2 separate regions of the Homo sapiens genome follow, and region 1 is linked to region 2. The links come from fine-mapping of genetic effects on gene expression. A gene starts in region 2. The other region holds a variant in brackets. All regions are shown on one strand. Distances are between the middles of the regions.

Region 1 (4,395 bases), 27 kb before region 2:
ACCAGTCATTGAAATTGCACTATGATTTGAAAAGGTCTCCCATTCTTTGCCTCCCACACTTCATACCCTCAAAAACAATTATCCCTTTGAAAACTCTTGTGAGAACAAAATTCCCACTCTGAAAAGAGCAGAAGTGATTTCCCCATGTCTAGGAAGGCAAGAGTTTCTTTAGTCTGCTATTATATTCAGTGCCTTTGGGTGGCTTTTTAAATGCCTTCAGGGAAGGTTTTATTACCTTTATGCCCTTCTCTGAACCTGTGTGTGTGTGTGTGTGTGTGTGCGTCTGTGTGTCTGTGTGCACGCGCGTGCATGCACACGCATATGCATACATGGTATGCTGGACAAGGCAGCTGTCAGTCTTCATCGGCAGCAAGTCTCCACCTGGAGCACAGGTAGACACAGCCGCTGCACAGCAGGAGCAAGACCAGCACAGTGTGACTGAGCGCCAGGACTCCGACTGCAAAGAGGTACAGGGTTTTGTCACAGTAGTCCTGAGGCTGCTGGAAAGGGGGAAGAAAATCAGGCAGGTACACAGAAAAGACCCAGTAGTTTCCCAGGATGAACCAGAGGAAGAGGAAGAGGCTCAGCAGGAGGTGGATGTAGTATCTGTGCGCATTCTGCCTCCAGGGGTATTCGTCATCGTCATCGTCATCAATCACCACGGCCTTGGACAGCAGCCGCCTCATCCTGGTGGAGTCGTACAACAGGAGAGACACCTGGGGCGTGGTGGGGAGCCAGGGTGGCAAGGCAGAGCAGCAAAATAGACGGGAAGAGAGGGGATAGAAGGTAGCGGTGGTGGGGTGTTGGCAGGGAGAGAGAAAGAGGAGAGAGAGGAAGGTGTTATGAAAAGTGAACAACACACTGGAGTTACAAATGCCATCAAGCAACGAAATTTAATTTGAAGAATAAGAATTAAAACTGGCAAGAATGAAGGCATAAATTCATCGCCAGCATCCTCAGTGGTGTTTTCCTTTTAGATGTGTGAGTTGGTTTGGACAAGGGATTGGCTGGGGTAACCCATCTCTGCATCAAGGTTCAGACTGACTCTCTCCTGTATTGTGCTAGCACATTTGCACCCACACATAATGTAAAAATGACACCTGGTCCGCATGCTAGAGGACCTTGAAATATATCCCTCTGTCTTGGGAGGAACCCCTAGCAGACTTTTCCCTGGTACTTCCAGGCCATGTAACAGGCTTGGCCGAATCCAGGTACCGTGAGCCGTTTCCTCCCCACCCCAGCCCCGCCCAGCCTGCTTTCTCTCTTCTTGGAAGTTTGTACCACTGCCCATCTCAGGCATCTGGAATTCCCAAGTGGGGCTGTGGACTGAGAGTCCCTCTCAGTCCTCGTACATCTTTCAAGTCAAGAGCACAGACCCTTGTCCTGGGAGTGATACTCTTGGGGGACAGACCATCTGGGCCCCTGGTAGATGGTCCCTGACTCCAGCCTGACACGCCTTCGAAATTCTGCTGCCACTTGGTTACACAAAGCACCACGACCCACCCGACTCTAACTGGCCACAAATGCCTTTGTCACAGGGGAGCACACTTTCCCCCTGGAAATGCAGCGGTGGAAGGACACAGGTGGTCTTTGCTAAGGAATGCCTTAACAGCTCCCCGTCTTCTCT[A/G]CCTAGCAACTTGATCTGTGATGTTTTTGAAAGCCTGACCTGTGTATCTGCTCTCTCTGGCTTCCTAGGCTACCCATCTCTCCCGAGGCCACACTCATGGCACCCCTAACCCTGGAGAGCAGGGCATTAGAAAGAATCCTTGGATGACGGAGGATGTGGCCGACTGGCAGAGGCGGGGAGAGATGCTGAGCTTGAGTGAAATGGAAGGGCAAGCAGGAGCCAAGAGATGCAGCTAACTGGGCTCCAAACTGTAAAGAGAAGCAAGGATAAAATAAAGAGAGACAGAGAGATGGGAACAGCGAACCCCAAGCTGTGCCTTGGGTAGGTGATAACTCCAGATTTGGACTTGTTCCATTTAAAATTTTGGATGGAAATGCAGGGTCTAGTGGCCCACAGGGGGCAGAGTCAGAGCCTGGAGGTGAACAGAGAGAGGTGAGGACTCCTGGCAGAGATCTGGGGGTTACCCGTGAGGAGGTGATAGTGACTCTGGGAATGGATGTTGTACAAAAATAGACCCTGGTGCTGGGCAAAGCGCTTGACATACATTATCTCAATGAATTCTCCCAGCCTGAGGCTAGAGGTACTAAATAAACATGGGCGCAGGACCAAAACTGGAGCCATTGGGCCAAAATGTCAACAGCAATTTTCTCTGGGTGGTGAAATTTACAGATGATTTTGATTTTCTTCTTTGTGCTTATCTGCATTCTCTGATTTTCCAAAATGGAGAGTTATTACTTATGTAAAGATACAAAACCTAAGGAGAGTGGTTAGTTTAATGCTTGGTATGTGTGATCTTTAATGTCCATCCTAGCCTGGGGCCGCGTATTATCTCTGTTGCCCAAATGAGGAAACTAAGGCTCAGAGAAGTTAAGTCACTTCACTGAGATCCACAGTGAGTAAGAGAATGAGAAGGGCAGTGGTCCACACCTCTTTGACCACTGTCTACACCACAGTACACTGATGATTAAATCGGAGGAAATTAAATTGGAGGGTTCTCGCCTAAGACTTGCAGCCCGGCTGGGAGGCAGAACATCTCCATAAGAAAAGGAAAGTGAGGCCTTGGGGGAGTTCAGAGAGCCACCCACAGTAGAGCTGACTCATCCAGGGAGGGCTGCCTGGAAGAAGGGGCATACTTGGGACCCCTATGCACAAGGAGAGGTGCGAGGGTCCTCCTCTGAGGGGGAGTGGTGTGGCAAAGGTGAAGGGTGGTGGGTTTAGGGTAGGGGAAAAACCAATTGCCTGTAGTAGGTTGGCTGACGGTGGCTGTGTGGTTGGGAAAGCCCAGGCTGAACACCAGCTCGCTGTTTCCTCACTGTAAGCTGGAACTGAGAGTCCAGCTCAAGTTTCCATCACTCAGATGCATTTCCCTTCCTTGCAGGGCCCCATTCCTTGGAGGAATTCCCCCACCCACCACGTGTCCCCAGATCTGGCTGCCCTCCCAGGACTGGTTCTTGGCTACAATGATGCCAGGAGAAAGGAACCAGCCCAAGGAAAGAGCCGTGGCAAGTGGGTCCCACTGCCCAGGCTTCCTGGAGCCACCTGGCCCCCTTCTCTCCCACTAACCTTTGAGGTTGTGAGCTCTTCCAATCAATGACCTCTTAAGTTAGCCAGAGTTGATTTTTTGTTCCTTGTAGTCAAAGAATCCTTCCTGAAGCAAGTACCTGCCTCAAAGGGGCACGGTGAGGACTGAATGAATTCCAAATGAGGGCAGAGCCGTCAGCATGGCATCAGCAAAAAGCACATGCTTACTAGGGGTAGCAATTGCCACTAGGAAGGGTGATGTGGGAAGATGAGGGGGAGTGCAGGGTAGGCAATGGTCACTGAATCCGTCTTTTGGAAACTGTCTTTTAACATGACCCTCAGTAACAAATACATTTTATGCCAGGTCCTAGTCACTGGGTAACTGCATGTCCTTGTTGGCTTAGAGAAGTCCTGGTTTATGCTGTTGCTCTGGCAGGATGATTATTAGAGCCCCCTTGTACTCTCAAAAGTGTCCCAGTTAGGATGATAAATTACACGGTCAACTCACCCAAACACACACATGTCCATATGTAAGTATCACACAATACTTAACTTACTAGGCACTCTAATTTTCTATTTTATTTTTTAAAAAGCAGGTCACACACAGCCTACTTAATTCATTTCCTGATCTTTTAATGGGGCATGACCCTCAGTTCTTTCTGGTAGCTCCATGAAATGTCAGCTCACATCTCTTCAAGTTTCTCTTCATAGAATGCAATACTGTGAAGCTATCTGATGCATTTCACGAAGGATGTTGGGACCCCCTAGGCAGGTTCTGAGGTTGAATACAAACCATCATTATCACAGGCAAACTTCTGCCTCTGGGGACTCTAATCCTGTTTGCCGCTGCTCTAATGGTTATGGACTCACTGTATATTACCTTGCCATCATGAGCACAAAAATTTAATTTGGCTTCAAACGGTTTTAGATTGCCAGGGCAAAAAATCAATGCTGCTTATTAGGGCCTTAGTTTGTTCACTAAAATAAATTACCTTTGGGTCCTGGGCTGGCTTTCAGAAAGGAAAAGTTTGCTGTTTTTAAGAGGAACAGACCCCACGGACAGTAGCATCTCTAAAGGAAAGTTCTGCTGGGCAGCTTGACGATGAGTGAGAACAGGAGAGGCAGAGGTAATTACTGCTGAAAACGCTGCCCTTGTTTTAAGCATCTCTATGGCACTCAAACCGTTAGAGCCTTCCCTTAACACTGTGGGGGCCATGGGGAAAATGTGGCCCCGCTGAGCCAAGAGC
Region 2 (4,395 bases):
CTGCAATTTGAGAAAATAGCAGTGAATCTGCTTTTTGATTCACAGAATTCACTGTGTGAATTTGCAGATTCAAATACACTACAAAAGACCTATTCACTATTATGGTGGGGACTTGAACAACTCACAAAAAACTGCACGTTCCTTGGAGCCCTTTGAAGCGGCAGCTCTTCCAAAAGAGGGTCCCTCAACAGCAAGAGATGCCCAATAGAGCAAATACATACTAATGATGGATTCATGTCAATGCAATCCATTAAATGATTGACTAAAATCTGTAATGACACAGATTTTAGTCAATTTCTATACCTTCTATATCTTCTACTAAGAAAACGTACATTTTTTCTTATTTGATAGAAAGTTTTCTTATTTGTTAGAAATCTGAAACAGGAAGAGATTGGGGTAACAGGCCGGGCAGTGCCTTCTCTCCAGTGTGAACAAACAGTGACTTACAAGTCTATCCTTGGGCATGCTGTGATAGGACTGTGTGTCTCACACCTGCCTCTGCACCTAGAAGGGCAGTGATAATAGCCCCTGCTGCTTCCTCTCCTAGCAGCTGAGTGATAATAAAGGGCACGATGGGAATTAATCAATAATAATTGCCAAATGATATGCTCAATGCATTTTCAATTTTCAGTCCAATTGATATATCTCAGTGGTTCTCAACCAGAGGTGATCTGATCCCCAAGGCACATTTGGCAATATGTGGAGACATTTTTAATAGTCATGGCTGGAGCAGGGCTGTCGATAAAGAGACCAGAGATACTGAAAAACATCCTCCAAGGAGCAGGGCAGTCCCCAACAACACTTATCTGCTCCAAAATGTCAATAGGACTAGGTCTGAGAAACTTTCTATGTCTGTCTAACATTCCCAGTTTTAGAGTTCAAATTTGTAAAATTCTACTTTTGTTAACCTCTGAGTTGTGTCATGAATCAACAGTAAACATATATATATGTATATATATGTGTGTATGTGTAGACACACACACATATATATATATGATTGTGTTTTTACTGATTGGCTTGGTAAATTAAACTATTTATTCCTAAATCAGCTGTGAGGACCAACTCACTCTTGGTTTTGAATAACATTGAATATTAGACATTAACCATCCCCATACCTGTTCCTTCAAAGCAGATGTTAACTAGTATTGTTGAATATTTTCAACAAACATTTCGGGTGCTCAGGACACAGTCCTTTCTTATCTGTAGCTCTCTGTGTAACCTGTGCTGTTTTCTCTCCTAACCATGCCCGAATGCATGAATTCAGTGGAGGTTATCGCATACCTACTGTGTCTCAGAGTCATTCCACAACCTCCCTAGGATGCCTTCATTGTTTGGCTCCTAGGAAATGAAAAATGCACTTCCTTTGAGCTCTACCACCCCTTTAAAATGACCAAGTCAAAGCCACTTGCTCACAGCCCCAATAGGTAAGACATGGAGGTGATGCCTGTGGTCCCCACTCGCTGTCCTGCAGCCGGTAGGTTGTTTCTAAGAGTCCCACACAACTTGCCTTCGCCCTGCAGTTAATTATTCCTTTACGATTGTTCTCTTCTCCAGAAAACCCATCTCCCTTAGACTCAGTGAAGATTGTTTTCGTTCCCTCCACACAATTAAGAAAAGCACTTCCACAATGTAGTCATTTTCTTTCCAGGAAGCATAATCAGCACATTGGCATCTTCCTAAGAATGATTTCAAGAAACCCTCTGCTAGGACTGTCTCTCCAACTTCACAGGCTGCCCAGGGTTGCCGGACTCACCTGAGCTAAGCAGAGTGGGATCCAGAATCGGGCAGCACTCAGCACCTCTGTGGTCCCGAAGTCCAGGGCTGCCTCTGTGGGGCTCCTCTTGACTTGGGGCTCCCACTCCCTGTCGCACGCTTTCTTTCTCCCTTTCTCTCCTGCAGCACAACAGCAACTCGTGGCTTTTCCTCTAAGGGGCGGGTTCTCTCCATTTCCCACTCCCACGTGTGGGGAGAGCAGCCCCACCGCCGGCTCATACCCCTGCAGTGTTCCCCAGGCCCGCAGGGGGGCAGCAGAGCGACCCTGGGAGCTGTGGAAACATGGCCGACCCCTTGGAGTTAGGAATTCCCGCGGGAAACATTTCATTTCAGTCCCTTAGGCACTAAACCTAGGGACTTAGTTCTGGTGCGAGCCCCTTCTCACCCCTTGCCCTCCCTGCATGTTGGTGGCACACGAGAAAGGGTGGACCGAACAGCGGCTGCTTAGGAAAGAGTGTGAAGGTACTCAAAGTGGGCTGAGGTAATGAGAGGTGCCCTATGGACTTCAGGACTGCCACGTAGAAAAGGGATTAAATTGATTCCGAGTCATTGCAGACGGCCAGATCTGAGATAGAATGAAGTTACAAGAAGGCTGAATTGTGCCCCATGTCATAAACTTTGTAACAGTGGCCTTCTTAGACCTGAAGCAGGCTGCTTTGTGAGGCTGTTGTGTGTCTGTATTGTAAGCAAGCACCTAGCAGTAGAAGTTCTCAGCTGCTGATTTATAAGAAGTGCCAGAGATTCTTTATTGAAATGCAGATTCCTGTACCACCTCCCAAAGATTCTCAATCTGTAGGTCTGGGCCTGGGCCCAGGAATCTGCAGTTTAGACTCTGCTAAGTCTCCTGTAGGTGCTCCATGGACCACACTTAGAGAAACTGGCGTCACATGACTTAAAGGCATTCTCCAACCCTGACATTCCAGGTTTTTTGTTGTCATTTCGGTGGAAAAGGCCAGTCTACTGGGGAGGGACTGGGGGAGGGACTGGTGTGAGGCAAGAGAAGAGCCTATTATGTAAAATGCAAGGAGCTGCTCCCTCTGAAGCTACCCCTGCATTGCACACCCCTGGGAGGAGGGCACCTCTCCGGGCTCACTCTAGGGCTGGCCCTGCCACTCTCCCAGTCCTGAATCCAAGGTGACCACTTCACACCACAGGACAGGGTGAAGCAGAGGAGCAAGGGGAGGAGAGCCTGCTAGAGGAAAGGACATACAGTCACAGTCATGAGCCACATAACAATGTTTCAGTCAATGATGGACCACACAGATGGTGGTTCCTTAAGATTATAATGGAACTAAAAAATTCCTATCACCTAGTGATGTCATAGCAGTCATAATGTTGTAGTGCAACACATTACTGATGTGTTTGTGGTGATGTTGGTGTAAACAAACCTACTGCACTGCCAATCACATAAAAGTAAAGTACATACAATTATGTACAGCACATGATACTTTACAGTAATAAAAAACAACGAAGTCACTGCTTTATGTATTTATACTATACTTTTTATCATTATTTTAGAGTGTACTCCTTTACTTATATATATTAAAAAAAGGTTAACTGTAAAAATGCCTCAGGCAGGTCTTTCAGGAGGTATCCAGAAGAAGGCATTGTTATCATAGGAGATGACAGCTCCTGCCTGTTATTGCCCCTGAAGAACTTCCAGTGGGACAAGATGTGGAGATGGAAGATAGTGATATTGATGATCCTGACCCTGTGTAGGCCTAGGCTAATGTAATGTATGTATAATGTATGGGCTAATGTATGAGTCAAAATTAAAAAAAATTATAAAGTAAAAAAGTTACAGTAAGCTAAGGTTACTTTATTATTAAAGAAAAATATTTTTAATAAATGTAGTGTAGCCTAAGTGTACAGTGTTTATGAAGGCTATAGTAGTGTGTAGTAATGTCTTAGGCTTTCACATTCACTAATCACTCACTCACTGACTCATCCAGAGCAACTTCCAGTCCTGCAAGCTCCATTCATGGTAAATGCCCTATACAGGTGCACCATTTTTTAATCCTTCATATCCTATTTTTACTGTACACAATGTTTAGATACACAAATACTATGTGTAGTATTTTCTACGTTTAGATACACAAATACTTACCACAGTGTTACAACTGCCTACATTATTCAATACAGTAACATGCCATGGTCTCTGGCCTTTTGGGAACAGTACTGGTCCCTAGCCTTTTAGGAACCGGGCCCCACAGCAGGAGATGAGTGGCAGGTGAGCAATCATTACCACCTGAGCTCCACTTCCTGTCAGATCAGCAACGGCATTTGATTCTCACAGGGGCACAAATCCTTCGTGAACTGTGCATGCCAGAAATCTAGGTTGCACACTCCTTATGAGAATCTAATGCCTGATGATCTGAGGTTGAACGGTTTCATGCCAAAACCTTCCCCATCCCCACCCTCATGAAACTGGTCTCCGGTGCCAAAAAGATTGGGGACCACTGGGTGTGTAGTAGGCTATACTATGTGAGTTTGTGTGAATACATTCTATGACCTTCACACAATGGCAAAATTGCCGAATGTCACATTTCTCAGAACATATACCCATGGTTCAGTGATACATGACGGTACTTGAATCTTCTCTTATCTCACACTGAGTGAGTG

Which allele goes with the higher level. Alleles are on the strand shown, and positions count from the first base shown. SD is a standard deviation of normalised expression in the study named.
As copies of A replace G in region 1, the expression in CD4 T cells of the gene that starts at base 1,915 in region 2 goes up (moderate effect, 0.62 SD a copy in BLUEPRINT).

What was found. PIP is the estimated chance that this variant, and not a neighbour inherited with it, causes the effect.
Region 1: its variant is the best candidate, but not a certain one, in a credible set for the expression of TMEM272 in CD4 T cells (BLUEPRINT, PIP 0.86).

Annotation. Positions count from the first base shown.
Region 1 is chr13:51,816,398-51,820,792 of GRCh38, forward strand. TMEM272 (transmembrane protein 272) reads right to left here. Exons shown (of 5, transcript NM_001351003.2): 5 at 1-716. The coding sequence ends at 354. Among named protein-coding and RNA genes, the nearest start is that of DHRS12, 14 kb to the left of the region's middle. The variant A/G (reference allele first, on the strand shown) is at 1,628.
Region 2 is chr13:51,843,263-51,847,657 of GRCh38, forward strand. TMEM272 (transmembrane protein 272) reads right to left here and starts at 1,915. Exons shown (of 5, transcript NM_001351003.2): 1 at 1,754-1,915.